Linked DNA regions of Homo sapiens. The protein of the gene in region 3 interacts with the protein of the main gene of each other region in a biochemical or structural test. Each region holds a gene or a part of one and is shown on either strand. Other genes may lie near its edges. The genes, in order: PACSIN3, DYRK1A, DNM1 and CLINT1.

Region 1 (6,448 bases), on a different chromosome or scaffold from region 3:
GGAGACAGTTACATACACTTGTTCGGGCTTCCTGGCCAACACAGAAGCCAGGCCTCTTGGTTCCCTTCGTGCCCTCCTCAGTACAGGGAGCTACTGGGATGTGGCCAGGCACCCTCTGACTTGGCCTCTCGGGTAACAGGGTTGTCTTGTCACTCAAGGGAAGGCAACAGAGGCCCTAGCCTGGGCAGGAGTCCTCTCATCGGCAGTTGGGGGAGTGGGGCCTTCTGCCCACCGCCCACCCCCGCCTGCCATTTAATCCCTGGCTGGATCGTGTGACCTGCCTGGCATTCTCCTCCCTGGAATCCGGCGCTTCTGACAGCAGTTGCTATATTGGGGGTGCCGGGCACCGCCCTGGACGCTCTAGGCCCCCACCCTCACCCCCGCTCTGTTCTCCTTCAAGGCAGAGTCACGGTGGCAGCATTGAGAGTTGGACACCCGGGTCCTTGAAGTGATCTCTAGGCCCCAGGTATGTGGGGGGGCGGGGGGGGAAGTGCAGAGCAGTGAGAGGAAGAGCTTTGAGACTCCATCCTCACCCATCCTGGCCCTTCTTAGGGTCTTCAGCACCCTGCCTGCTAAGTCCTAGCTCTGATGACTCCTTGGGTGGTGGGGATGGCAGTGGGGCGAGGCCCAGGTATAGAGAGGGTCTTTTCCTATCCCCAGAAACATAATGTCCAGCTTTCCTGCTTACCCCTCTGCCCTCCACAGCCCCAAATCCGCCACCATTCCGTGCTGCGGGGACACCATGGCTCCAGAAGAGGACGCTGGAGGGGAGGCCTTAGGGGGCAGTTTCTGGGAGGTGAGCAGCTGGGTCCTGGGCTCAGCTACTTGTCTAGGGGAGGAGCCCATCTGACAGCCCCAGCCCCAAAGGAAGCTTCTCCCTGGTGATGGCACCCTTTTCCTGTATGCCCAGGCTGGCAACTACAGGCGCACGGTACAGCGGGTGGAGGACGGGCACCGGCTGTGCGGGGACCTGGTCAGCTGCTTCCAGGAGCGCGCCCGCATCGAGAAGGCTTATGCCCAGCAGTTGGCTGACTGGGCCCGAAAGTGGAGGGGGACCGTGGAGAAGGGTGAGCCAGGCCCTCGCAGGGGGCAGAGGGCAGCTGAGTGCAGGACTGTCGGGCCAGCTTCTTTTTGCACGTCTCGTGGGAAGTTTGAGGCCTCCACGTCTACCCTCCCTTAGAAAGGGAAGATCCTCCTGGTCATCCTCATGGCTGTGGTGTTATTAAAGTTTATAAAGGATGCTCATGAGTTACTTTGATAGTTGCAACAACCCTGTGGAGATGGTTGTTTTACCCATTTTCTTTCCTTTCTTTTTTTTTTTTTTTTGAGACGTTTTGCACTTGTTGCCCATGCTGGAGTGCAGTGACATGATGTTGGCTCACTGCAACCTCCGCCTCTCAAGTGGTTCTCCTGCTTCAGCCTCCCAAGTAGCTGGGATTACAGGCACCCACCACCACGCCTGGCTAATTTTGTATTTTTAGTAAAGACGGGGTTTTACCATGTTGGCCAGGCTGGTCTCAAACTCCTGACCTCAGGTAATCCACCCACCTCAGCCTCCCCAAGTGCTGGGATTACAGGCGTGAGCCACTGCATCTGGCCTTCTTTCCTTTGTTTATTATTTATTTATTTTGAGACAGGGTCTCACTCTGTCACCAGGCTGGAGTGCAGTGGTACAATCATGGATCACTGCAACCTCTCCCTCTCCCACGCTCAACTGATCCTCCCACCTCAGCCTCCTGAATAGCTGGGACCACAATAGCTGGGATCACAGGCATGGACCACCACACTTGGCTAATTTTTGTATTTTTTGTAGAGATAGGGTTTTGCTATGTTGCTCAGACTGGTTTTGAACCCCTGGGCTCTAGCGGTCCTTTCTCCTTGGCCTCCCAAAGTGCTGAGATTACAGGCGTGAGCCACCGTGCCCGGCCTGGATTACAGGCATGAGCCACCGCACCTGGGCCTGTTTTATGCATTTTCTAGAGGAGAAACTGGAAGCTCAGAGAGGCTAAGGGACTTGCCTAAAGGCACACAGCTAGGAAGTGCTGAAGGTTGAGCCCAGGCCCTCTGACTGGGAGCATGGATCTTTCCACCCTGCAAGCTGTCTTCCTCGAGGGCACACACAGGCTCTTCCTTTGAGGCAATGGAGTGTAGTGTTTACACAACAGAGATGGGTTTGAATCTCAGCTCCTCTTTTTTTTCTTTTTTTTTGAGATAGAGTCTCGCTCTGTCACCTAGGCTGGAGTACAGCGGCGTGATCTCAGCTCACTGCAGTCTCCCCCTCTCGGGTTCAAGTGATTTTCCTGTCTCAGCCTCCCAAGTAGCTGGGACTACAGGCGCCCGCCACCATGCCCGGCTAATTTTTTGTAGTTTTAGTAGAGACAGGGTTTCACCGTGTTAGCCAGGATGGTCTCGATCTCCTGACCTTGTGATCCACCCGCCTTGGCCTCCCAAAGTGCTGGGATTACAGGAGTGAGCCACTGTGCCCGGCCCTCAGCTCCTGTTGTAGCCATAATGCTTTGGGCGAGTTCACATCTCTGGTCCTCAGTGTTTTGCCTGTTCAATGTTGGCAATGTCGCTGTCCTCACGATGGTGGCTGAGACAAGGAGTCAGTGAGATAAGGCACATGGTCCTCATTCAATAAGCCCAGCTGACAGGGTTGTCATTCACCTTTGCACCCCATGCGCGTACCCCATGCCTCCATGCCTCACACCCAGTGAGAGGGGCTAGGCTCATTTTGGGTGGTACCCAGGCCTGGCCTAAGCCCTGTCCCTCCCTGCAGGCCCCCAGTATGGCACACTGGAGAAGGCCTGGCATGCCTTTTTCACGGCGGCTGAGCGGCTGAGCGCGCTGCACCTGGAGGTGCGGGAGAAGCTGCAAGGGCAGGACAGTGAGCGGGTGCGCGCCTGGCAGCGGGGGGCTTTCCACCGGCCTGTGCTGGGCGGCTTCCGCGAGAGCCGGGCGGCCGAGGACGGCTTCCGCAAGGCCCAGAAGCCCTGGCTGAAGAGGCTGAAGGAGGTGAGGCTGGGTGGGGGAGGTATCCGAGACAGGCTCCTTCCTGTTTGTTTGCAAGGGATCGAGGGGGCCAAGGTGTGGCATCCAGGGTCCAGAGTGGTCTCCATGCATGCCAGGTTGAGGCTTCCAAGAAAAGCTACCACGCAGCCCGGAAGGATGAGAAGACCGCCCAGACGAGGGAGAGCCACGCAAAGGCAGACAGCGCCGTCTCCCAGGAGCAGCTGCGCAAACTGCAGGAACGGGTGGAACGCTGTGCCAAGGAGGCCGAGAAGGTACAGGCCACAGGTCCCAGCCCTGGCCCCCGCCCAGGGCACGGCTTCCTGAATGAATCTTGCTCCCTGAACATCTTGTCCAGTCCCCAGCACCCTTATTACCCTATTCCTCACCTGCCACCCTCTCTCCAGATGATCATTTAAAGGAGGAACCTGACAAAAGGTGATGCTTTACTAGGGAAAGAAATGGAGTTTCAGGCACTGGGATGACTTCAGCAGTTGAGAACTTCCAGCTCTTTTCCTTGCACAGTACCCTTTGCCCGAAGTGTCCTTTCCTGCAGCTCTGGATATGCAAATCCTCCCCATCCTGAGATGCTGCAGTTTCCACCTCCTCCAGGAAGCCTTTTCTGATTTCTCCCATCCTTTCCTGTAGGTTGACCTCATTTCAATCCTCACCAGACTCTTTTATATGCTGTGCCTGATGTCACCTCCCTTGTTAGGCTGCTGGGGTCCTTGAGGGCAGGAGCTGGGTCTTGGGACTGATTGCCCCTAGTGGCTAGCCCTGGGTCTAGCAGCCTATGGCAGTGTCTGGTAAACACTGGTGGAGTCCTGGGTGGAAGAAGGTCTGGTTCTCACCAGGCCCCTCCTCTCCCACCCAGACAAAAGCTCAGTATGAGCAGACGCTGGCAGAGCTGCATCGCTACACTCCACGCTACATGGAGGACATGGAACAGGCCTTTGAGACCTGCCAGGCCGCCGAGCGCCAGCGGCTTCTTTTCTTCAAGGATATGCTGCTCACCTTACACCAGCACCTGGACCTTTCCAGCAGTGAGAAGTATGAACTGCCTGGTGGGCATGGAGATCTGGGGTAGTACTGGGTCTCCTCCATCTCCCCGAGGCCCTGGCTGGGACTGAGGGATGCAGGGTCTAGACTTCCTAGACTGAGGGGTGTGCCTTGGGTCATAGGTTCCATGAACTCCACCGTGACTTGCACCAGGGCATTGAGGCAGCCAGTGACGAAGAGGATCTGCGCTGGTGGCGCAGCACCCACGGGCCAGGCATGGCCATGAACTGGCCACAGTTCGAGGCATGTGTTCCAGGCGGGGTGGGGATGGGAGGTGGGATGGGCTCCCACTCAGCTCGGCCAGGGCTAGGGATGAAGTAAGTGAAGGTGGTTCAGATGGCCCCACCTGACTATAAGCACTGTCCCCACAGGAGTGGTCCTTGGACACACAGAGGACAATCAGCCGGAAAGAGAAGGGTGGCCGGAGCCCTGATGAGGTTACCCTGACCAGCATTGTGCCTACAAGAGATGGCACCGCACCCCCACCCCAGTCCCCGGGGTCCCCAGGGTGAGAGCCAGGAGCGCGGCTGTGGCAAAGAAACAGCTCTGCCTCCCGCCCTCCTTTCCTTTCTCCTTGGTTTCATTTCTTTCACACCTGAAATGGGTTGAAAATTGGTGCCAGGGACCTGAGGGCCTACTTAGTAGTTGTAATGATACTGGTTCTCATAGTGGTTTAGATTTGCTGGGCATTTCCCACATTCCCTCTCGTTTATGCCTTAAATCAGCTGCGTGTGGCAGGAATTGCCTCTTTGCTCACAGTCGGGCATGGCGAGGTAGAGCTAGAATCTTTAGTACCTCACCTGACTCTCCCAGGTGCCTCTGGGGGTAGGGAGGCCTTTGCCCTGATCCTGGGTGAGATCTCCAGCCCCGTGTTCCTTGCACTCTGAGCTGCTCCCTTTGCCTCCCCTCTCCAGCACGGGGCAGGATGAGGAGTGGTCAGATGAAGAGAGTCCCCGGAAGGCTGCCACCGGGGTTCGGGTGAGGGCACTCTATGACTACGCTGGCCAGGAAGCTGATGAGCTGAGCTTCCGAGCAGGTACCCTGGGACCCCTTTCCTAGCTTCAGCCTCTGCCTTATCTGCCTGAGCAGGGGTGTCAGAAAGGGAAGCCAAATACCCACTTCTTAAGGGCCAGTCCTCTGTCCCTTCAGCTGTTCCAGGTCCAGATAGCTGGTGCCTGGTGGCTGCATTCAGGGTCTGGGGTGGGGCAGCTTGCTGACCTTGACCTGCCTCTGCCTGAGCCATGTCTTTGCTAGCTGGGCTCTGGGACCACACCATCCCCCTCAGTCCTTGACCCAGTTGCAGGAACAGGGCCTGGGCCAGGGCCACTGGCAGTGACCAATCCCCTTTCCCCCAGGGGAGGAGCTGCTGAAGATGAGTGAGGAGGACGAGCAGGGCTGGTGCCAAGGCCAGTTGCAGAGTGGCCGCATTGGCCTGTACCCTGCCAACTACGTGGAGTGTGTGGGCGCCTGAGTGTCCTGACAGCCCTTCTGCAACGTTTACCCACCCTGGTTCAGAGCCCAGCTTCTCCTGGAGAGCCGGACCCTCAGGGCCCTGAACCGTCGCTCTCTGGCTGCTCCTCTGTCCCTTGAGGGAGGAAGTCCTGGGACCCAGGGAGGGGAGGGGCCTTTGTCTAGGGAAGGGACTGGTAGGGAAGGGACGAGTCTAGGCTGAGGGCAAGATGGGAGGTCAGAGGTGACAGAAGCGTTCAGGGGTGCCTGGGCCTCCCCAGGAGCTGTGGACTCAGTTCCTGACCTCTGCTTTGGGGTTCCTGGGGTGGGCTTGGGGTGAGTGTAGTTCTGGCCTAGCAGCACCCTCTTGTGGCTTGTTCTAGCGTGTATTAAAACTTGACACACACCCACACACAAAAACAAAAACACCACTGTCGGGCTCATGTGCATTTTTTTGATAGGACACCCTTGCCAGGCCACCAGAGGGCATCTAGAGAGAGGCCTAGCGTCTGTTATGGGGCCGGGGTTGGAAAAGGGTTTGCCTGCTTGGTACCTGCTCTGGAACTTCGAGATACTAATCTGGAGTGGAGGGGACTCGCTGTCAGGCTTGCTGTTAACCGAGAACGGCTGAAGGCTGGGCGAGACGCGGGCCAATGCGTCTGCCCGTTCGGGCCGGAGGGACGAGGAGTGTTTGGGCAGCCTAATCCTTATTCATCGATCTGTAATTAGCTGGAGTGGGGGTCCCCGCCCCCAGCCTCCCGCAGCCTGCGCGGCGTGGGGGCGACTCCACCTGGGGGTTGCGGCGTGGGAGGGGCGGGGGGAAGGGTACTACGCGCGCGAGGAGGTTTGGGCCGGTCCGCGCGCCGTCGCCCCGCCCCGGCTGCGGATTGGCCCGGCGCGGCGTTGATTCTTGCGGCCGCGGTTGTCGTCG
Region 2 (7,035 bases), on a different chromosome or scaffold from region 3:
GAGCTTCTTAAAGGAATTTTTATAATCACATTAGAATTCTGACAGCAGTTACTTTTTGCATTCATTTAGTGGCACCTGCTTAACCAGGAGATTAAAAGCCATCCACAGACCATGATTGTGAGGTATCATGGAACTATGTTTTTAGTTTTAAACCTATAAACTGAAGTGACTAAGAGCAGATATTTTACATTCTTAGGTAACATTTAAGGATTCCTTTTGTTATTTTTAGTATCGAGTTGTGCTGTAGACTCCTATATAGCCATGTAGTTATTTTTATTGTGTTACTTATTCTAACTTTAGATCACCTATACCATGAAAGATCTAAAAGCAATATTGATGTTCACTGCTTTGAGGCAGGCAGCCCAGGACTATTCCCAGGAAAACACAATGTATCCACAGTTCTTAGTGATCAGACATTGATTACTATCAGTTTATTCCAGATAGATCTGTAGAGAAACCTCTCATTTTGTAATACTATAAGATAAAATGAAAATCACCTTGACAGATGGGTGTTTTATGTCATTGCAGTTGTGTTACAGGTGCTCAGTTTGGTATATATAAGACTTAACAGGGAGGGACAGCACTTTATCGAATAACCTCATCTGATGTGACGTCAGTGTTAATAGTTAAAGCACAATCTTTGAGGCAATTTAGTGAGTATTCAGCCTTTTTAGAGGGTCAACAGTGATAGCGACCTATGTATTCTATGCTGTTTCCCCACTCACAAGCCTCCTTATCATCTCTTCTTGTAGCTGAGCTTTATTTTGAAGTTTTCCAAACCTTCAGTCTCACACAAGAGTTGTCACTTACCAATTTGATAAACACAGTTAAGTCCTCCAATACTTTTACCAAAGCATGATTTTCAGACATTTGTTGTATTTGCCTAAAGGGTAAAAAAAAAAAAGGCTATCAATGAAAATTGTGACAGAAAATTACCAGTGAAATCTAAAGTTCAGCAGTGCAGATACATTTCAAAGCCTACACAGAGGGCTGCCAACTACAGCATTGTCACAAACCAGAGATCCCAGTAGGTGGAGCTTAGACATAGGAAGTTGTGAGGTAGGGCTCTCGGGAAGTAAAAAGTGCTTTCTTTTATAAATGAAGATAAAATTGCTGAAATATTCTCACTGCTGTTTGTCCATTTGGTCCTTATGTTTTCAGATCTGACTTTTAGAGAAACAAGGCATTTTGGTAGCACTGCTTACCTTATATCACTTACCGACATATGCTGTACCTGTTTAATTCAGCAGAAGAGCAACTTAGATATTCTTAACTGATTGAAAACTGCTGTTATTACAAAATGCTGATCTCCAAACTTTAACTGAACTCTGCATTTGATGTAATAATGTTATAGAACATTTGAGAGTGCATGTGTTTGTTACTCTCAGTTTATTGGTATATATAATTTAAAATGAAACTGTTTTCTCTTTCAGTGCATTTGAAACGCCACTTTATGTTTCGAAACCATCTCTGTTTAGTTTTTGAAATGCTGTCCTACAACCTCTATGACTTGCTGAGAAACACCAATTTCCGAGGGGTCTCTTTGAACCTAACACGAAAGTTTGCGCAACAGATGTGCACTGCACTGCTTTTCCTTGCGACTCCAGAACTTAGTATCATTCACTGTGATCTAAAACCTGAAAATATCCTTCTTTGTAACCCCAAACGCAGTGCAATCAAGATAGTTGACTTTGGCAGTTCTTGTCAGTTGGGGCAGAGGGTAAGTATTATTTCAGAACTTGTGAATTAAATAGAAATTAAATAGAAGTAGGTAGGACAGTGTAGGTATTAGGTTGGCGCAAAAGTAATTGCGGTTTTCGCCATTGCAGTTGCTGTTTTTGCAGTGGCAAAAACCGCAATTACTTTTGCGCCAACCTAATAGATATTTGAAATGTTAATAAGGTGTATACCATTTAGAGGCAATTACAGGATGCTTATTTATCTTTAAAATGTAGCACTTAATTACCTTGTGTTGATATCTATTTTGGGGAAATACCTTTTAAAATGCAAATAGCAATACTTTGAGTCAAAAGACATTGATTTTTTTGAAATGGGTATATTTAAAATTGTATGTATGCTAAAAGATTAAGGGAGAGAATAGGAGATGGAATGATTAAATATTAGGGGATTTGTAACTATATTTCCCAAGTAAAGGTTTTAGTATAAATTTTGGGACTTTCCAGTACTAGAACATTGAATCTTTGCTGTAAAATACTTCTCTGAAGATGGATCAAGATAAATCTTTTTTCTCAAAAACTGATGGTTCAAAAAAATGCAGGTAATTTTGCATTAGTCATGGTATAAGTATAGAAAATTCAGTTGATAGACTTACTTGTTTTGATAAATAAGTTTGTCTTATTTTCCCCACTCTTATTTAAAATTTACATAAATTCTGACACATATCCAAGCTGGTTTTTTTCAGACTGCTAAAAACAGATGTGTTCGTAGTGCTGATAAGTTTAGCTGATTTAGGAAAGCAGTTTTTTCCTGTCATTCTTCCAGCATTATGAAAACTACTCTAACAGCATTGTTTTATGTATAAAATAGAAGTGATAGGGGTCTCCTCTTGAAAGGAATTAGTGTCACCATTTGATAATATTTTACTCATTTTAAGCACTATTCTTTTTGCTTTAAGTATTGAAACTATATTTCTTCTGTTTTAAAGAAACCCGGCTAACATACAGATGTTAATTTTTCTTACTGACTTTTCTGTTTCTTATTTTTCCAAATTAGTGAAATTTTCTGTCCCGTCCTACTTTTGTCCAGGTTTTAACTATAACAGATTAATTTAATCATAAGGATTTATAGCCAATTAATAGGACTGTCTTTTTGTTATTTTCTGCAACTTCTCATGGTAGTGAGGCTATCAAATGTTAAAGTAATTTTTAAAAATTGGAGTAGGGAGCAAAGTTTGCAGTTTTAGATGCCTTCAAAAAATCAAGAGATGCTCGTAGTTAATATGTGGTAGAGTATATTGTGAATGAAAAATACATGCCCATCTTGACAGTAATTTGAATAGATTATAGAGTTGGGAAAATTTCCCCCTATTTAAGCCAAATTATGTATTTTGTCCTAATATTAAACATTATTATTTCTGTCTAGCCAAAATGAGCCAGTTATCCCTACAATAAGTTTTTAACTATTCAAGTTCATTGGCATCACATGGGAAGTTATTTCTAAAATAGACCTGCAGTGGTCCTGCCCCTAGATCTGTTGGATTAGAATCAGAAGGTGGTAGGGCAAGTGTGTTTTGGGGAAAGCAACTGCTTTAAACAAATTAGATAGGGAGGTGACAAAGTTCTTGGCATAAGCTGTGAAATAAAAGTCTCAGGAGTGGTGAGTGTTTGGGCCTAGGGAGTTAACAATGGTATTGGCTTATAAAAACCATGGAAATGTAATACTTCTTCCCAGTTCTTTTAAATTAGACTTTCTTCTCATAGTTCCTTAAGGTTGGTTGACCTACCTGTGGAGGCCTGAGATTGTTCTCGAAGACTTGGCTGGAGGTTTCAGTGGGAACCACAGAAAATTTCATGAGCTTTCTGGCTGCATGGTTTGGGTGTTAGGAAATTTAGTTAGGATTTTATTTCTTTTCCACTTTTAATAAGTGAAACAAATTGGTCTCTGAAGACATCCTAACATTACTTCATTGAAAATAGTCCATTTCAGGATTGTCTTTCTATAAGAAGTCTTGGATGGAGGTAGAGAGAGAAGATGAGAGAAGAAGCTATTGGTCAGAGACAGCTCTCAATTGAATCTTTATGTGGCAGTGTTTCTGGGATTTATCTGTGAGACAGCAAGAGTACAAATATCTGAATTTTAAATTATATTATATTGAAGTTACTTGACTTTTAACGCTGAGAAATACATTGTTTGGGTTAATTTAAATACTATTTAGTTGTAAAGTTAGTGGTAAACTAAGTGCCAGCCATAGTAGGAAGAAATAATTATTAGGGAAATACATTGCTTTCAATAGTGTTTTTTTTTTCCTAGTGAGGCATAATTGTTTTAAGAAATATCATGATGACTAGGTAGGATTAGACTAAATGAAAGGGCTTGAATCTTTACGTATTATGCATTTCACAGTCAGATTAACCAATCCCTCAAAATGTTTAGTTCTTTAAGCCGTATTCGTAGTCTAATGTTGAAGTTAATCAATGGAACCCTAATTCAGGAATTAGCCAATTCTTTTCTGTTAATATCAGATCAATGTTTTTAATCCAATGCTGACTGCAGTTTTAAGCAATTGAAGTAATACTATTTTGAAATATATTTCAGATATACCAGTATATTCAGAGTCGCTTTTATCGGTCTCCAGAGGTGCTACTGGGAATGCCTTATGACCTTGCCATTGATATGTGGTCCCTCGGGTGTATTTTGGTTGAAATGCACACTGGAGAACCTCTGTTCAGTGGTGCCAATGAGGTAAATGATGTATTGCTTTACAAATTCTGTTTTCATAATTTCTTTTTGTCTTTCATCTGTGACAGTGTAATTTAAAAGTTGTTTTTAGGCAAAGATGTCTACTTAATCATTCAAATGTGAGGTCAGTTTGAATATACCTATTTTTCATATTTGTCAGTTGTCATGTAAGTTTAGAATTATGAGATAGGAGTAGGATATTTTAATCTACTCATGAAGGAGAACAGTTAGAAAGTGTTAAGTATTTTGGCATACATTTTACAGGTTTTAAATACAATACAGAAAGCTTAAAGATGATAAAGAATGAAGGCCATCCTGAAGAGTGATACAAACATCACTCTAAATTTTGAGATTATGATTTGGAGTTGAAGAGTAATGATCAGTAGGACTGATGGATACTCAGTCTGAATAATGTAGAGTAAACGAGATTATAGACTTGTAGGGCTACAGAGACTGTGTGCAGTTCTGAAGTCTACAGGTTTTCAGTCTGTGTTCTGGAAGATTTTTCAAGGTCAGAGGCAGTGAATGGGAGGGCAGGGACAGGCCTTAACTTCCCTGCAGTCAGAGAAATTAGACTTTCATTGTTTTAAAAACTACACCTGTGGGGTTTTGTTTGTTTTTTAAAAGAAAAATTGACAATTTGCACGTCTTGATCAGTCTATTTATAAATGAGAAGAGAAAGGCCAAAGGCATTAATGACTTGTACCGGATTACACAGCTGTTAATAGGTGGTGTCAGAAACTTGTTTCTTCCATCCTTCCTTTTAATTCTTCTTTTTTTTTTTTTTTTTTTTTCCCGGAGATGGAGTCTTGCTCTGTCACTCAGGCTGGAGTATAGTGGGGCAATCTTGGCTCCCGAGTAGCTGGAATTACAGGCAAGCGCCACTATGCCTGGCTAATATTTGGATTTTTACTAGAGTTGATGTTTCACCATGTTGGCCAGGCTGCTCTCGAACTCCTGACCTCAAGTGGTCTGCCCGTCTCAGCCTCCCAAAGTGCTGAGATTACAGGCGTGAGCCACTGTGCCCAGCCCCTTTTAATTCATTTCAACTTGAACTGGTGAGCTACTCTTTTATAGTAACTGTCATAGTTTGTTTTTTTTTTTAGTATAAATCTTACTGTGTAAATTAGTATCTTTCTTGGGCTTAAACAATATTAAAAAAACTTTGCCATGTTACTCATTGTAAAGGCCGAGGTCCTTTGAGTAACCCACAGATTCCTACTTCCTCTGATGCCAGTTCTCTCACCACCACCTGGTCTCTCCTTCTCCCCTCACTCTGTGGTCCCTTGAAAACGCCAGCTACAGGCCCATAGCCCTTTGTATTTCTTCCTTCCTGTGCCTAAAATGCTCTTTTCTGAGATACTCCTTTGCTGATGTTAGTGTTTGCTCTGATGTCACATTCTCGGTGAAACCATATACCCCACTTACGGTTGCAGTACCCCTTCTCCTCATCCCATAGTTCTTAGCCAGCATCTGACATCATGTATTTAATTATTTATTGATAATGCCGGGCGCAGTGGCTCACACCTGTAGTCGCAGCACTTTGGGAGGCTGAAGCAGGCAGATCACTTGAGGTCAGGAGTTCGAGACTGGCCCTGCCAATATGGTGAAACCCCGTCTCTACTAAAAATAGAAAAATTAGCCTAGTGTGGTGTTGCGTGCCTGTAATCCCAGTTACTTGGGAGGCTGAGGCAGGAGAATGGCTTGAACCCAGGAGGCAGAGCTTGCAGTGAGCCGAGATCACGCCACTGCCCTCTAGCTTGGGAGACAGAACAAGACTCCATTAAAAAAAAAAAAAAATTGTGTGTTTGTGTGTATATGTATTTGCTGTCTTCCCACTATAACATAAACTTCTTTTTGGCAGGAATTTTTATGTTTTGTTTATTATTTTCTACCACTGAATATGGTTCCTAGCATATAATAGGCACACTCATTTAAAGTACTTAAAAAAGTACTTTATTAGGTCCATACTTTATTAAGCCTCTGGGATTTTGTGTGTGTGTGTGTGTGTGTGTGTGTGTGTGTGTGTGTGTGTGTGTGTGGTTATTTAACATGCTCTGAAAACTGGGTTGGGTGCCGTACCTCACGCCTGTAATCCCAGCACTTTGGGAGGTCAAGGTGGGAGGATTGCTTTATCCCAGGAGTTTGAGACTAGCATAGGCAACATGGTAAAACCCCATCTCCACAAAAACTTTTAAAAATTAGCTGGGCATGGGGCCGGGCACGGTGGCTCACACCTGTAATCCCAGCACTTTGGGAGGCCAAGGTGGACAGATCATTTGAGGTCAAGAGTTTAAGACCAGTCTGACCAACATGGTGAAACCCTGTCTCTACTGAAAAATATGCCTGTAGTCCCAGTTACTCAGGAGGCTGAGGCAGGAGAATTGCCTGAACCTGGGAGGTGGAGGTTGCAGTGAGCCGAGATTGCGCCACCGCACTTCAGCTTGGGTGACAGAGCGAGACTCCATCTAAAAAACAAATAGCCGGGCATGGTGGTACATGCCTGTAGTCCCAGCTACTCAGGAAGCTGAGGTGAGAGGATCACTTGAGCCTGGGAGGAGGTCAAGGCTGCAGTGAGCTCTGAGTGCACCACTGTACTCCAGCCTGGGTGACAGA
Region 3 (7,000 bases):
GAGTCAGAACCAAGACAAGGCTGAATCAGGGGAGTCTAGGGTCCTGAGAGGCACAGGGATGCGGAGCCAGGTATGTATTCAGGCCAGTCGCTTCTCTCTGTGCCTCAATATTCTGGGTACCCTTGGAGGGGCTGAGATCCTGGGGATGCCTGGAGCCTGGCTGCATGGCCTGGCCACCTGATGCCCTTGTGTTCTCCATGGCAGGCCAGCGAGACCGAGGAGAATGGCTCCGACAGCTTCATGCATTCCATGGACCCACAGCTGGAACGGCAAGTGGAGACCATCCGGAATCTTGTGGACTCATACATGGCCATTGTCAACAAGACCGTGAGGGACCTCATGCCCAAGACCATCATGCACCTCATGATTAACAATGTGCGTGCTCCACTGCATGGGGGCAGGGAAATCCTGTGGCACTGGGGATGCAGGTGGCCATGTTGGCCTGGGGGAGATGCCAACCAGCCCTATGGGACCAGGTCCAGGGAGGGAGGCACGGTCCAGACCAGAGCTGTCCAATAGAAATATCATGAGGGGCTGGGCGCGGTGGCTCACACCTGTAATCCCAGCACTTTGGGAGGCCAAGGCAGGTGGATCACGTGAGGTCAGGAGTTTAAGACCAGCCTGGCCAACATGGTGAAACCCCATCTCTACTAAAAATAGAACAATTAGCCAGGTGTGGTAGCGTGAGCCTGTAATTGCAGCTACTCGGGAGGCTGAGGCAGGAGAATCACTTGAACCCAGGAGGCGGAGGTTGCAGTGAACCGAGATCCTGCCACTGCACTCCAGCCTGGCCGACAGAGCGAGACTCCATCTCAAAAAAAAAAAAAAAGAAGAAGAAATATAATGAGGGGCTGTGCACGGTGGCTCATGCCTGTAATCCCAGCACTTTGGGAGGACAAGGCAGGAGGATCACTTGAGCCCAGGAGTTCAAGACCAGCTTGGGCAACACAGTGAGACTTTGTCTCTACACAAAAATTTTAAAGAATAGCGGGGGTTGGCCGGGCGCGGTAGTTCATGCCTGTAATCCCAGCACTTTGGGAGGCCGAGGTGCGCAGATCACCTGAAGTTGGGATTTTGAGACCAGCCTGACCAACATGGAGAAACCCCATCTCTATTAAAAATACAAAATTAGCCGGGCGTGGTGGCACATGCCTGTAATCCCAGCTACTCAGGAGGCTGAGGCAGGAGAATTGCTTGAACCCGGGAGGCGGAGGTTGCGGTGAGCTGAGATTGTGCCATTACACTCCAGCGTGGGTAACAAGAGTGAAACTCCGTCTCAAAAAAAAAAAAAAGAATAGCTGGGGTTGGTGGTAGCACGTGCCTGTAGTCCTAGCTACTGGAGAGGCTGACATTGGAAGATAACTTTGAGCCCAGGAGGTTGAGGCTACAGTGAGTGGTAATCTCCCCACTGTACTCCAGCCTGGTGAAAGAGCGAGACCCTATCTCCAGGAAGAAGAAAAAAAAAAACAACTGAGTAGACAAGAGTTCTGGTGGCATGATAGGTCCTAAGTCCCCTCCCGGTTCTGTGACCTTGGTCAGATGACTTTTCCTGTGGACCTCAGTGTCCTCATCTGAGTGAGAAAAGCGCGGTGGGGAGGTGAATCTTCCAGTCTACGCAGTGTAGGAGCCGCGTCTGAAAAGCCACACCAGCTCACAGTCCCAGCAGGGCCCGGTGGGGCGGCCAGGGCGGCACAGGCATCAGGTCCCCACCTCCTTCCCTCTTTGCCTACTCGCAGACCAAGGAGTTCATCTTCTCGGAGCTGCTGGCCAACCTGTACTCGTGTGGGGACCAGAACACGCTGATGGAGGAGTCGGCGGAGCAGGCACAGCGGCGCGACGAGATGCTGCGCATGTACCACGCACTGAAGGAGGCGCTCAGCATCATCGGCGACATCAACACGACCACCGTCAGCACGCCCATGCCCCCGCCCGTGGACGACTCCTGGCTGCAGGTGCAGAGCGTACCGGCCGGACGCAGGTACCAGGGCCGGCCCCCACGGCCCCAAAGCCCCCCAGCCCGGGGCCCGCGGGAGGAATGCCGGGACCGGGCAGTGGCGCGCCCGCGTCACCGGGGTGGCTCCCACCTGGAGCGAGGGGCGGAGCTTAGAGAGGGCGGGGCTTGTCGCGGGGCGGGGCTTGCCGTGGAGAGCTGGCTGCAAGGCTGGGTGGAGCTGGGGCGTTGGCGCCGCTGGGGGCGGGGCTTAAGCTCCGGCGACCGCCTTAGGGGTGCGGCAGGGAGGGGCTTGCGTGCATGGGCGTGGCCAGCACTGGGCTGGGGCGGGGCCTCTGGGTGGGCGGAGCTGCTCATCTCGCCTCTCCTTGTTCCTCGCTCCCTGTCGCCCTCAGGTCGCCCACGTCCAGCCCCACGCCGCAGCGCCGAGCCCCCGCCGTGCCCCCAGCCCGGCCCGGGTCGCGGGGCCCTGCTCCTGGGCCTCCGCCTGCTGGGTCCGCCCTGGGGGGGGCGCCCCCCGTGCCCTCCAGGCCGGGGGCTTCCCCTGACCCTTTCGGCCCTCCCCCTCAGGTGCCCTCGCGCCCCAACCGCGCCCCGCCCGGGGTCCCCAGGTGAGTAGGGGCTGAATGCGGCTGGAGAGGCTGCCGGACGGGCGTGGCCGGGAGGGAAATGGGGCTGGATTCCAGAGCATCGGACCTGGCCGCCAGAACCGGCCGTTTCTATCCCAGGCAATCGGACTCTGGGTGCCGGAGCCACGCCACGTGTGGCCGAGGGCTGGCGGAGCCTGCCCCCGAGGGAGCGCTGAGTCCCGGAGGTGGTCGTTTCTGGGGAGGGGGCTGTGGGGCTCGTCCCACCTGCCCCCTTCTTTCCAGCACTTGCATGGCGCTTCCCTCTATTTTCACTCTTGGCGGCCGCCCACACGTTGCATTCCTCCTCCTTTCTTCTTCTTGCTGTCCTCCATCCTCCATTCCGTCCAATTCCTCTCCCAGCCCCTGGGGAGCCTACCTTAGGTCTGACTCTGAACCCCGATCTGCTCTGAGTGTGTGGATTTCCTTCAGCTACCCTGATGTCCCCACTTCCCAGCCCTGACTCCTTTGAGCCATCCCAGGGGGTGTCCAGCCACTGGCCCACAGGAGCAGAGGCCAGGCTGTGACTGTGTGACTAGAAAGGTGTGTGATGTGTGTGTGGGCGTGCACACGAGTGTGAGAGTGTAAGCATGGCACCCAGGCCCGGGCTAGGACAGGAGCAGCTGGGGAAGCAGCCTGGGCCGTGGGCAAACTGATGGCTTTTTTCCTCCCCCCAACCACCCCCTCCGCGACTTCTGGCCCTACCCAGTCTAAACCAATGTGGTAGGGGTGGCGGCAGGGGCAGGGATGGGAGTGCTTGAAGCCTGCTTCATTCCCAAAGATTTCTAGGGAAAAGCTTTCTACTACATCCTTTGGCTTGACCTTCTTGACCCATGACTCTCTTTCAAGGAAGTTCACTCCAATTCCCAGTCTGCCCTGTTTCCACTGGCCACATTCTCTAAGGAAGAACACAGCAGAACAATAGCATCTGTTTTGTTTCTGCATGGCTGGAGGGTAGGGCTGTCGGTCTAGCACCCATAAACCAAAATGAGGCAGGGATTGGGGCTTGCCCTATGATGCTCTGATGACCAAAGCAGATGCGTAGAGGCAAGCAGCATGGTATTGGGCAAGAGGACTGGACTGGGAGTCCAGAGATGCTGCTTCACCCTGGGCCTTTAGACACGTCTCTTTCCCTCCCAGAGCCTCAGCATCCCTTCTATCAAATGATGACATTCTGCCTTTTTCCCAGGGCGGTTGTGGGGATCGAGGGAGACAGTGGCTATAGGGATGCTGTGTTAACTGCAGATGCAGCCGTAGGAGCACTTTGCTAACTGCCAACGTGAGTTCAGATTCTTCAGGGTATTTGGCACCCAGGTCTATGGTGCGGTGTGAGATCTGTGATGTAAGGTTTGATGCCTGCCCCAACTCCAGTCTTGCTAACACACATGAAACATTTGGCAAATCATGACCCTACCTTGGGGAAAAGAGCAGTCTGGGAGAGCTTCTTCAAGGCAACCTGACTTCAGTGCAGTCTGAGGCATGGCTGAGATAGGCTTACGTGGCAAGGAATCAGGAGGGTATCTGGGCCAAGAGCTGCAGTGTGGGCAGAGGTGTAGTGTGGGCTGCAACGAGGACAGCCACTGGACAAAGCAGAGAACAGAGACAGAATGAGGAAGAGCTCTGTGGGCAGGGTGGGGCGCAAGGTGGAGAACCTTCAAAGTCTGAAAAGTTTGACTTGTTGGGGCTCAATGCTGTGGGCAGTAGGGAACCACAGAAGGCTCTTAGGTGGAGAAATGACAGCTGGACTTTAGCGAGCAAGCCCTATCTCCATGAGCAGCACGGGTGATCCTCTAAGCACACCAGGCACGAGTGTGCAGGGAGCTGGTGCAAATGCCTCTGTGTGCGGGTGAGCTTCTGTGTTGTGACTCTGCCCACACGTGTGCTTCAGTGTGCTGAGTGGCTGCATGCCCCAGATCCATGCTGCACGCGCCGCCGGCCAGTGAGGGTGCTGGGCACTGGGAGGTGGCGGGGAAGGAGGCGTATGCGTGTTGTTTGTGGGCATGTGTGTTAGCGTGTGCATGTGGGCCATGGGGCCTCACAGCATGTGTGTGCACGCCCGGGCGTGTGCGTGTGTGTGTCCCCCACCCCCAGGCCGGCCCCACCCGTGCGTGTGAACTGCCATGTTGATTTCGTGCTGTCTTTCAGAATCACTATCAGTGACCCCTGAGGAGCGTCAGCCATGGTAGGTACATGCCTCACCGCCTGCTGCATGAACGGTGTGTCTGCCCCGCTGCACTAGCTCCACACGGGGCGCGCACCTGGGACCTCAGAGCCAGGCTCCCCGCCCCTCCCTTCTGCAGCTGCAGACTTGCTCTTTCCTCTTTCTGTCCTTGTGCCGCTGGCTCTCTCACCTCCCTTCCCTGCGAGCCTCGGGACTCAGTGCCACTGCCCAAGGCCTCCATGGCTGAGCCTGGAGGCTCTTGGAACAGGCTCCGCGCCCAAGCTGGCAGACATGGGTGCTCTCTGGAGCCGTCAGAGAGGGCAGAGAGCTCGTGGTTTATGGTGTAAAGGCTGGGAGCTTGGAGGGGGTCGTGTGTGGGGCTGGACTCTGAGGCGGCCAGAGGCCTAGGAACGTTATCCTGGGCACACCGTGCGTGGTGTGCAGTCTGAGTCATGCTCCCTGGGTAGGGCATCCAGCTCCCAGCCTGGGAGTGCTGAGAGCCAAATCCACCGTAGAGCAGGGGTGAGAGTCAGGGTCCCACCTCCTCTATCTGCCGGCAATCCAGTGGTGACCTAGGGTAAAAGCTTGAGAGTCCCATACACACGGTCATCCCACGACATACCTCACAGGCCAGGCAGGGACACACAGCCCCCTTCCCTCCCTCCCAGGTACCGTCATAGCTGCTAGTGTGACTGAAGGCAGTGTCCCTGGCCCCAGCTGAAGCACCGTAGCCAGCCAGCGGGCTCACGCACCTTGGCCTGTTGCTCCTAGGGTCACTTGTGCCATTCAGCCAAGGGGACGACCGTGCCTGCTGGCCCAGCTGAGCTCCGCCCAGTGAGCCCACCCCCCATTCTCCTGCCACTGACTCTCGCTCTTCTGCTTTTCCCAGCAGGAAGGGCCCAGCCTCACCTACGAGACCTGCAGCCCCCCGACCAGCTGAGGCTCCCCTCTTAGACTTATAAGTCTATGGCCACTGGCATCCGGCTGCCTGCCCTCCCTGCCTCCCCCAGGGTCCCTTCAGAGGGTCCTGGGTTTTCTGAACACCCAGAGGGGCCTCCGGCGCTCCCTCCAGCCATCCCTTTTAGTTTCACCCTCCTGGTTCAAGCAGTGTTCTTTCTCTATCAGGCCTGGTGGCTGTTGCATGGGGCTCCCCAAGGCAAGGGGTGGCCCCAGGCCAGTGGGTTGGAAGACAGGGTGACCAGAGAAGAGGGAAGCCCGAGGGGGCCGAGCATCAGCCTGAATTGCGGGTGCCCTGCCTGGGTGCCGTGTGAGAGGCCAGCGTGTGTGGGGTGGGGAGGGCCGCCACAGCCCCCAGGCGCTATCTGTGAAGCTACGGCTCCTCCCTCCATCTTCCTCCCCTTTCCCTTCCAGCCCCTTTTCCAGGAACCTTGCCACACCCACACCTGCAGCCTCCCCTCCCCGGCCCTCCCACCACTGCTGCGGCGCGGCCGGCCCCGGCCGTGTGCTGCGCTTGCCTTACCAGCTCTCTCCTCGCTTTTCTCTCCCGTTTTCTCTCTGCTTTCTCTCCAACTGCCAGCCGATCGGGTCAGGCAAGTCCATCCCGTCCTGAGAGCCCCAGGCCCCCCTTCGACCTCTAAACAGATCCCTCCTCTTCTCGGAGACCTCCCTTTCCAAGCCTGCCTGGACGGCTGTTCTGTGACTTGACAGTGGCTCCCCCAGCCCCAAAGCCAGCCCCCTTCATCTGTGACTTAATCTGTTGTAGTGGTGAGCTGATACATTCAGGTGTGACCGTTGGTGAAAACTTGTGCCCCTTCTGTGGTATGCCCTTGCCCTGTTCTATAAATATCTATAAATACTCATATATATACACACCTACACATGGCCAACCGCCTCGCCTCTAGCGCTGGGAATCAGTCACTGTGCTATCCTTGTGGAGTCTTGTGGCCCAACTACCAGAGAACGCTGTCCCCCGACATCCCACTCCAAAGTGTGCCACCTCCAGTGAGCCTCCTTGTCATGCCCGGCCTGTGGACAGCCAGCCCCCGCCATCCCTCCCACCCCCTACCAAGCATGGGGGTGCTGTGCAGGCAGCCGTGTGGCCTGACAGTTTCTACCAGTCCTGCTGTCCCTCGGCTGAGAATAAAACCCATTTCTGGATGATGGGGAATGTCTCCTCTGCTGGTTGTGTTCTCTCTGGAGCTCAGGGGAGGGGAAGGGCTAAGCCATTACTAGGGTGCTGCTGGGGGTGGTGAAAAGACCACATCTTTTCCAAGGGACATTTTTCCTGGAAAGCCCCTGGAG
Region 4 (7,035 bases), on a different chromosome or scaffold from region 3:
ATGCTATCGAGCAGCATTGCATGCTACAGAGAAATCATCTGTGAAAGGAAGAATCTATGATGCAGAAAACTTCATTGTTATTTTAAGAAATTGCCACAGCCACCCCAAACTTCAGCAATCCCACAACCCTGATAAGTCAGCAGCCATCAACATGGAGGCAAGATTTTCCACCAGCAGAATGATAAATACCTGCTGAAAGCTCAGATGGCTGTACTTTTTAGCAATAAGATATTTTTAAATTAAGGTATGTACTTTTTTAAACATAATACCATTGTGCATTTAATAGACTACCACATAGTGGAAACATAACTTTTATATGAACTGGGAAACTAAAAATTTGTATGACTTGCTTTATTCCAATATTCACTTTATTGCAGTGGTTTGGAACTAAACCTGTAATATCTCTGAGGTATGCCTGTATAACAATTTTTTTGTTTACATGATGTCTTGTAAAAGATTAGCATAAACTGCTAAATACATATTCTGAAAGTATATCATCTAGATTTAAATCTAGACTATCTTCTAGATGTGCTATCTGTGGCACACTCTTGGCATTCTGTGCCCAATTTCCTCATAAGAAAATTGAACATAACAATGTTGTCACCTTTGTTCTTGGCACATGGCAAATGCTCAATAACTATTAGCTTTTATTATTAGAAATATCTGGATTTAAAGGATATCCTCTGTAATAAATATCAACTTACCAAATTTAATGTATTCATTCAAAAATATTTGAGCGCCTACTATGTGTCATAATTGTTCTAAGAGTTAGTAATACAGCAGTAAACAAAACAAAGTTCCTGCCCTCAAGGAACTTGCATATCAGAGGCAGGAGATGAATACATGTAACAGAGGAAGGCAAGCACAGAAAAAAATAGTGACGAGTGTGAGTGCATACTATGTAATACAGGAGGTCCACTGAACAGAACAGAGAAAGTGAGGGACAGTGGTGGGAGAAGAGATCACAGGCGGGGCAACAAAGAGCCAGATCTGTACAGGCAATTAAGCAATGAGATGAGAAGCCACTGGAGAATTCTGAACCCATTTGACTTAGTATTTTTAAAGAATCCCTCTCGCTGCTGAGTGGACAGCAGATGACAGGGCTAAACATTTTACATGCTTAGTGAGAAACAGGCCATCCTTCAAAGCCCCATTCAGTACCGAACTTATAAGCCAAATACATCAAACTAAGGATATTACTGGCTGGGCACAGTGGCTCACGCCTATAATCCTAGCACTTTGGGAGGCTTGAGGCGGGCGGATTGCCTGAGCTCAAGAGTTTGAGCCCAGCCTGGGGAGCATGATGAAACCCTATCTCTACAAAAAATTAGCCGGGCATGGTGGTAAGCACCTGTAGTCCCTCTTACTTGGGGGACTAAGGTGGGAGGATGGATTGAGCCCAGGAGGTCAAGGCTGCAGTGAGTCAAGATCGTGCATGCCACTGCGCTCCAGCCTGGGTACAAGTGAGACCCTGTCTCAAAAAAAAAAAAAAAAAAAAAAAAAAATTATTTAACCATGGGGGTTTAACTACAAATTAAGACATGTAGTTTCAACCGTATAACCTAAGTCACTTTAAAAAGTGATAAATGAAAAATTAGTATGAGAAAAATTAATAGAAAAAGGCTCAGTATGCCTATTAGCATTGTTCTTTTTTTTAATATTAAAAAAAATTTTTTTAGAGACAAAGTTTCACTCTGTTGCCCAGGCTAGAGTGCAGTGGCACAATCACAGCTCACTGCAGCTTTCAACTCCTGGGTTCAAGTGATCCTCCCATTTCAGCCTCCCATGTAGCTGGGACTATAGGCATGCATCACCATGTCCGGCTAATTTTTTAATTTTTTTGTAGAGACAAGGTCTGTGTTGCCCAGGCTAGTCTTGGACTACTGGGCTCAAGAGATCTTCCCTTCTCGGCCTCCCAAAGTGTTGGGATTACAGTTGTGAGCCACGGCACCTGGCCTTGCACTGTTCTTTAATGATTTACTAAAAATGCATGAAAACAAATGGCAAACAAACAAACAAACAAAAAACCCGAAAATTGAATTTTCAATGCATGCCTTTTTTCTACTATAAAAATATAAGCTATTTGAATGAGAATTCTTGAATGAAACATTTCATTCAATAGTTGTTGAAAAAGCACGCATGTACGTTTACCACATAATGATGAGTGTGTGCAAAATTATAAAAGATTATTTATATTAAAGTTATCTAGAACTTAAATACTGTCCTAAGAATTGAGAAGCTAAATAAAATTCATGTCAAAACAAATATTCTAGGCCAGGCACAGTGGCTCACACCTGCAATTCCAGCATTTTGGGAGGCCACGGTGGGTAGATTGCTTGAGCTCAGGAGTTCGAGACCAGCCTGGGAAATGCGGCAAAACTCCATTTCTACCAAAATACAAAAATTAGCTGGGTGTTGTGACATGTGTCTGTCGTCCCAGCTACTTGGGAGGATCGCTTAAGCTACTTGGGAGGATCGCTTAAACCTAGGAGGCTGAAGCAGAGATGGCACCATTACACTCCAGCCTGAGTGACAGAGCAAGACCCCGTCTCAAAAAAAAAAAAAAAAAAGAAATGAAATATTCTAAAATTGGCTAACTAGACTCTTCTTAAATGAAGTACAAACCATTCATGTGCACTGTTGCACATTAACAAAATCACTCACATTTAATAATTCGTTAGCTAAATCTATCCACAAGTAATAAGTAGCTATAAATTGGCTCAAACATAGGAATATATTACGTTCCTTTACCTGTATTTAATTTTCAGGCAAAAGAGCCCTGGTAAGCCAAATAATTTCTTGCCAATTTGAGGGGTTGAATAACCAGAAAGCCCTTTCTCCAATGTGCTTTCCTTGTATATACTGTTTGTCCATTGTCAAACACCATGAATTTGGTATCACATATTTTAGAGGATTCTTTTTCTTGATATTGTTCAGTCTCTTAAGAATAAATTGTCTGCTTCAATTTGCATTTATGAAATAAATCTTTTTATGTTTTAGTAATGTTTTACATTAGCAGTTACTTTAAAATCTTGAGAATACACAAAACAAGCTGAACAAAATATTAAGAATTGGCAGATGGAATTCGCGATATGTCTTTCCAAAGACTTTATTCCTCAACATGTCTTTTGAAAGGGTATTTCTGCAATATGCTTTGCAATATTAAAGTAGAAGCCATTTATGATTTAGCAAAAATAATACAAGGCATAAACAACAGAGGTATTTAAATTAGCTGTCCTATATGTAGGCTAAACTGAGTCTTAAGAGAGAGTACTCACTGAAAATAATGATTTCATGGATGAAGATATAGTTCCTACATACTTACAAATAACCTAGTCTGACAATGATATCTCTATTTTCACAAACACTGTATTCCTTTGATTTTTCTAGTGTTATACTGTTTTGTGTGTAACAGTAATAACAGTAATAGATGTTTCAAGAGTTTACTGTATGTCAAGTACTATACTGTTTCACATTTAATCCTCATAATCCTATAAAATATCATCTCTATTTTACAGAGAAATAAAGATACCATTCTAACACATAAGATCACCGTTTCTAGTAGCAGACCTAAGATTTCAATCCAGTTCTCACCTCTGAACCACTAGCTATTCCCACATTTATTAAACACCATCTGGAGGCACCTAAGTATAGTGGCAAAGTATATTTGGCTAGCAAATTATTATAAAAATACATAGATGGACAAACACACATAATTAAGCTAAACAAGGAAAGCTCACATGAAGCGTTAACCTGAAAAACACAGAAGAGTAAACAGTAAAATATGTTGTCACCAAAGGTAGCTGAGACTAAAAAGTTAACTGTATATAAGAACCTTCAAAAGTACTAAAAATGTACTTTGAATCTGTGAAGTGATCTTCATTAAAACAAACATTGGAAACAAGTAGGAAAATAATATAAGCATACAAAAGGCCAGAGGCAATGGCTCATGCCTGTAATCCCAGCCCTTTGGGAGGCTAAGGCAGGCAGATCACATGAAGTCAGGAGTTCGAGACCAGCCTGGCCAAAGTGATGAAACCCCGTCTCTACAAAAATTAGCTGGGCATGGTGGCACATGCCTGTAATCCCAGCTACTTGGGTGGCTAAGGCAGGAGACTCGCTGGAACCTGGGAGGCAGAGGCCAGTCGCAGTGAGTTGAGATCACACCATGGCACTCCAGCCTGGGAGACAGAGCAAGACTCCATCTCAAGAAAGAAAGAAAAAAAAAAAAGTCCAGAAAAAGACTCAACTGTAGAGCCATATTGTGAAACCTTGGATTACTAGCAAATGGCACTCAAAATAAAAAAGGCTAAGTACTTTCAATGGACATATCAGTAAACAGATGAAAAACTGCTTTGTAGGCCGGGCACGGAGGCTCACGCCTGTAATCCCAGCACTTTGGGAGTCTGAGGCAGGTGGATCACCTGAGGTCAAGAGTTCAAGACCAGCCTGGCCAACATGACGAAATCTCGTCTCTACTAAAATTACAAAAATTAGCCGGGCATGGTGGCACGTGCCTGTAATCCCAGCTACTCAGGAGGCTGAAGCAAGAGAATTGCTTGAACCCAGGAGGCAGAGGTTGCAGTGAGCCAATATCGCACCATTGCACTCCAGCCTGGGCAACGAGAGCGAGACACCATCTCAAAAAAAAAAAAAAAAAAAAAAAAAGAAAAACTGCTTGTAAACTAATACTAAAGTGTGCAAGAAAACATAAGAGGCAGTTAAGTGCTTTTTAAAAGCACCCTGACAGTAGTACTAAATAGATTAAACTACAGAAAATTACCCCTAAGAAATGCTAGCAGAGATAAACCAAACTCATCTTTCTTTGGAATTAAATTCCTAATATCTACTTGTGTCCAGTTACTAGAAAAGGAGGAGAATAATTAATTCATTGTTTCAGCAATAACAATTACTTATAATCGGTTCAAAGAAAAGTTGACATGGGAAGACTAGAAAGCTGACAACTATCTTACTATCTCTGCTTTCAAATTCCAAGAAGCAAACTGAACAGAGATTTACTGGTAAGATAAAGAAAATAAAGGGGATGATATCTGAAGACTGAAAGAAAAGAAAAGAAAAATAATCCATTCAAGTTGTAGCATATTTGTAGTGGCAAGGTTCTTGAAGGCAGGTATTGTATGTTTCGAGTTCAGAAAATAGAGTACTAGACCAGGCGCAATGGCTCCCGCCTGTAATCCCTGCGCTTCAGGATGCTGAGGCAGGCAGACTGCCTGAGCCCAGGAGTTCAAGACTAGCCTGGGCAACATAGCAAGAACCCTTCTCCACAAAAAAATTTTTTAAAATTAGCCACGCATGGAGGCGCAGCTGTGGTCCCAGCTGCAGTGTGCATGTTTGCATCACTGTGCTCCAGCCTGGACAACTGAGTGTGACCCTGTCTCAAAAATAAAAAATAAAAAGAAACCAGACTACTAATCCAATAAATAACAAATGTATTGCCTGTTAAAATAAATGAATATACTATTCTTTATAAAAGCAAAAGTTTCTCCCTCTGGAGTCAGGAGACTAGAACAGCAGTTTCTACAGCTCTATTACATTATCTAAACATTTAGGAACTAAAACCAAGCAAATATACATCAATAAAAATCAACTTATGAGGGAAAATGCAAGCTATGCTTAGGAGAATAACTTAAAATGGACTACCCATAGCTGTTGCCTTAGGACCTTAGCCAGAGCTGTTTGAATCACTATCAAAAAAAGGGCCACTGAGGCTGGGCAAGGTGGCTCATGCCTGTAATCCCAGCACTTTGGGAGGCCGAGGTGGGTGGATCACCTGAGGTCACAAGTTTGAGACCAGCCTGGCCAACACAGCAAAACCTCAGCTGTATGAAAAATACAAAAATTAGCCAGGCATGGAGGTAGACGCCTGTAATCCCAGCTACTCGGGAGGCTGAGGCAGGAGAATCATTTGAACCCGGGAGGTAGAGATTGCAGTGGGCTGAAATCACGCCATTGCACTTCAGCCTGGGGGATAAAGTGAACTGTCTCCGAAAAAAAAAAAAGGCGGGGGGGGGGGCGGGTCACTGATGAAAGAGATTTACCACTAATATTACTCCTTGCAAGGAAAGAGAAGGATTCGCTGAGCTTGAACAAATAAGTAGCAGTTTTGATCTACCACTACCATGTCACCTTCATTACATTCCTCAAATCTAGAGAGAAAATAGAACTGCAGCAACTTTCAATTTTACCATGTATAGGATGACAAAATATAAACATGTCCAATTTTATTACAGCCACAAGTAAAGATAGGTCATAGGATGACAATGATTAAGCTAGTGCTCCTAGTTGGTGGGAATGGTGCCACTTATCCTTTCCTGCCACATCGCCTTTTATGCAACTTGACGAGTGGGAAGATACTGGCATTCCAAGCTCTGGCAGGCCTATGGCTTTATCTGCTTCCCTCAGTTCCACAATGTTCTGCAAAACAAATCCCTCTACTGCCACCAGGAGGTGCAGCGATTGTGGAAAATATACCCCCACTTCCAGAAAAAGTCTTCAAGGTCTCAAAAGCCAGTGTTTGAAATACATCATTATCACTTTGAGTAGCTGAGATGGGTGGATCACCTGAGGTCAGGAGTTCAAGACCAGCCTGGCCAACATGGCGAAACCCCGTGTCTACTAAAAATACACAGATTAGCTGGGTGTGGTGGCAGGCACCTGTAATTCCAGCTACTAGGGAGGCTGAGGCAGGAGACTCGCTTGAACCCCAGAAGTGTAAGCTGCAGTGAGCTGAGATCTCGCCACTGCACTTCAGCCCCGGGAACAAGAGCGAAACCCCATCTCAAAAAAAAAAAAGAAATACATCATTACACTTAAGAGCCGCTACCATACTGAATCTAAGAGTGGCTCCAGGAAACACATTTTTCAGAGTACATTTCTTTTTCTGAAGTAAAACCTCACTGGGTATCAATATACACTAAAAGTCCTAGTCTTCCTGAGTCATGGTCTTATTTATTGCATAAAATATTTAAGTATAACATTTATTGATTACCACTTTTTAAGAAAATTTCCCTTTTC

The links.
Region 1: the proteins of DNM1 (region 3) and PACSIN3 form a complex in vitro, tested with the Homo sapiens proteins (one study listed by BioGRID).
Region 2: the proteins of DNM1 (region 3) and DYRK1A form a complex in vitro, tested with the Homo sapiens proteins (one study listed by BioGRID).
Region 4: the proteins of DNM1 (region 3) and CLINT1 form a complex in vitro, tested with the Homo sapiens proteins (one study listed by BioGRID).

Annotation. Positions count from the first base shown.
Region 1 is NC_000011.10:47,177,022-47,183,469, reverse strand, and holds the end of PACSIN3 (protein kinase C and casein kinase substrate in neurons protein 3), read left to right. Parts: intron 1-400; 5' UTR 401-466; intron 467-660; exon of another isoform or gene 661-667; coding exon of another isoform or gene 668-742; coding exon 743-796; intron 797-910; coding exon 911-1,067; intron 1,068-2,779; coding exon 2,780-3,015; intron 3,016-3,128; coding exon 3,129-3,284; intron 3,285-3,732; exon of another isoform or gene 3,733-3,859; intron 3,860-3,883; coding exon 3,884-4,059; intron 4,060-4,190; coding exon 4,191-4,311; intron 4,312-4,439; coding exon 4,440-4,576; intron 4,577-4,982; coding exon 4,983-5,104; intron 5,105-5,423; coding exon 5,424-5,539; 3' UTR 5,540-5,948; downstream 5,949-6,448.
Region 2 is NC_000021.9:37,488,742-37,495,776, forward strand, and holds part of DYRK1A (dual specificity tyrosine-phosphorylation-regulated kinase 1A), read left to right. Parts: intron 1-810; exon of another isoform or gene 811-883; intron 884-1,205; exon of another isoform or gene 1,206-1,304; intron 1,305-1,433; coding exon 1,434-1,720; intron 1,721-4,275; coding exon 4,276-4,422; intron 4,423-7,035. UniProt on the Homo sapiens protein: Dual-specificity kinase which possesses both serine/threonine and tyrosine kinase activities. Exhibits a substrate preference for proline at position P+1 and arginine at position P-3.
Region 3 is NC_000009.12:128,248,379-128,255,378, forward strand, and holds the end of DNM1 (dynamin-1), read left to right. Parts: intron 1-204; coding exon 205-375; intron 376-1,736; coding exon 1,737-1,978; intron 1,979-2,346; coding exon 2,347-2,562; intron 2,563-4,722; coding exon of another isoform or gene 4,723-4,744; exon of another isoform or gene 4,745-4,759; intron 4,760-5,630; coding exon of another isoform or gene 5,631-5,700; exon of another isoform or gene 5,701-6,275; coding exon 6,276-6,336; 3' UTR 6,337-6,866; downstream 6,867-7,000. UniProt on the Homo sapiens protein: Catalyzes the hydrolysis of GTP and utilizes this energy to mediate vesicle scission and participates in many forms of endocytosis, such as clathrin-mediated endocytosis or synaptic vesicle endocytosis as well as rapid endocytosis (RE).
Region 4 is NC_000005.10:157,849,135-157,856,169, forward strand, and holds part of CLINT1 (clathrin interactor 1), read right to left. Parts: intron 1-7,035. UniProt on the Homo sapiens protein: Binds to membranes enriched in phosphatidylinositol 4,5-bisphosphate (PtdIns(4,5)P2). May have a role in transport via clathrin-coated vesicles from the trans-Golgi network to endosomes. Stimulates clathrin assembly.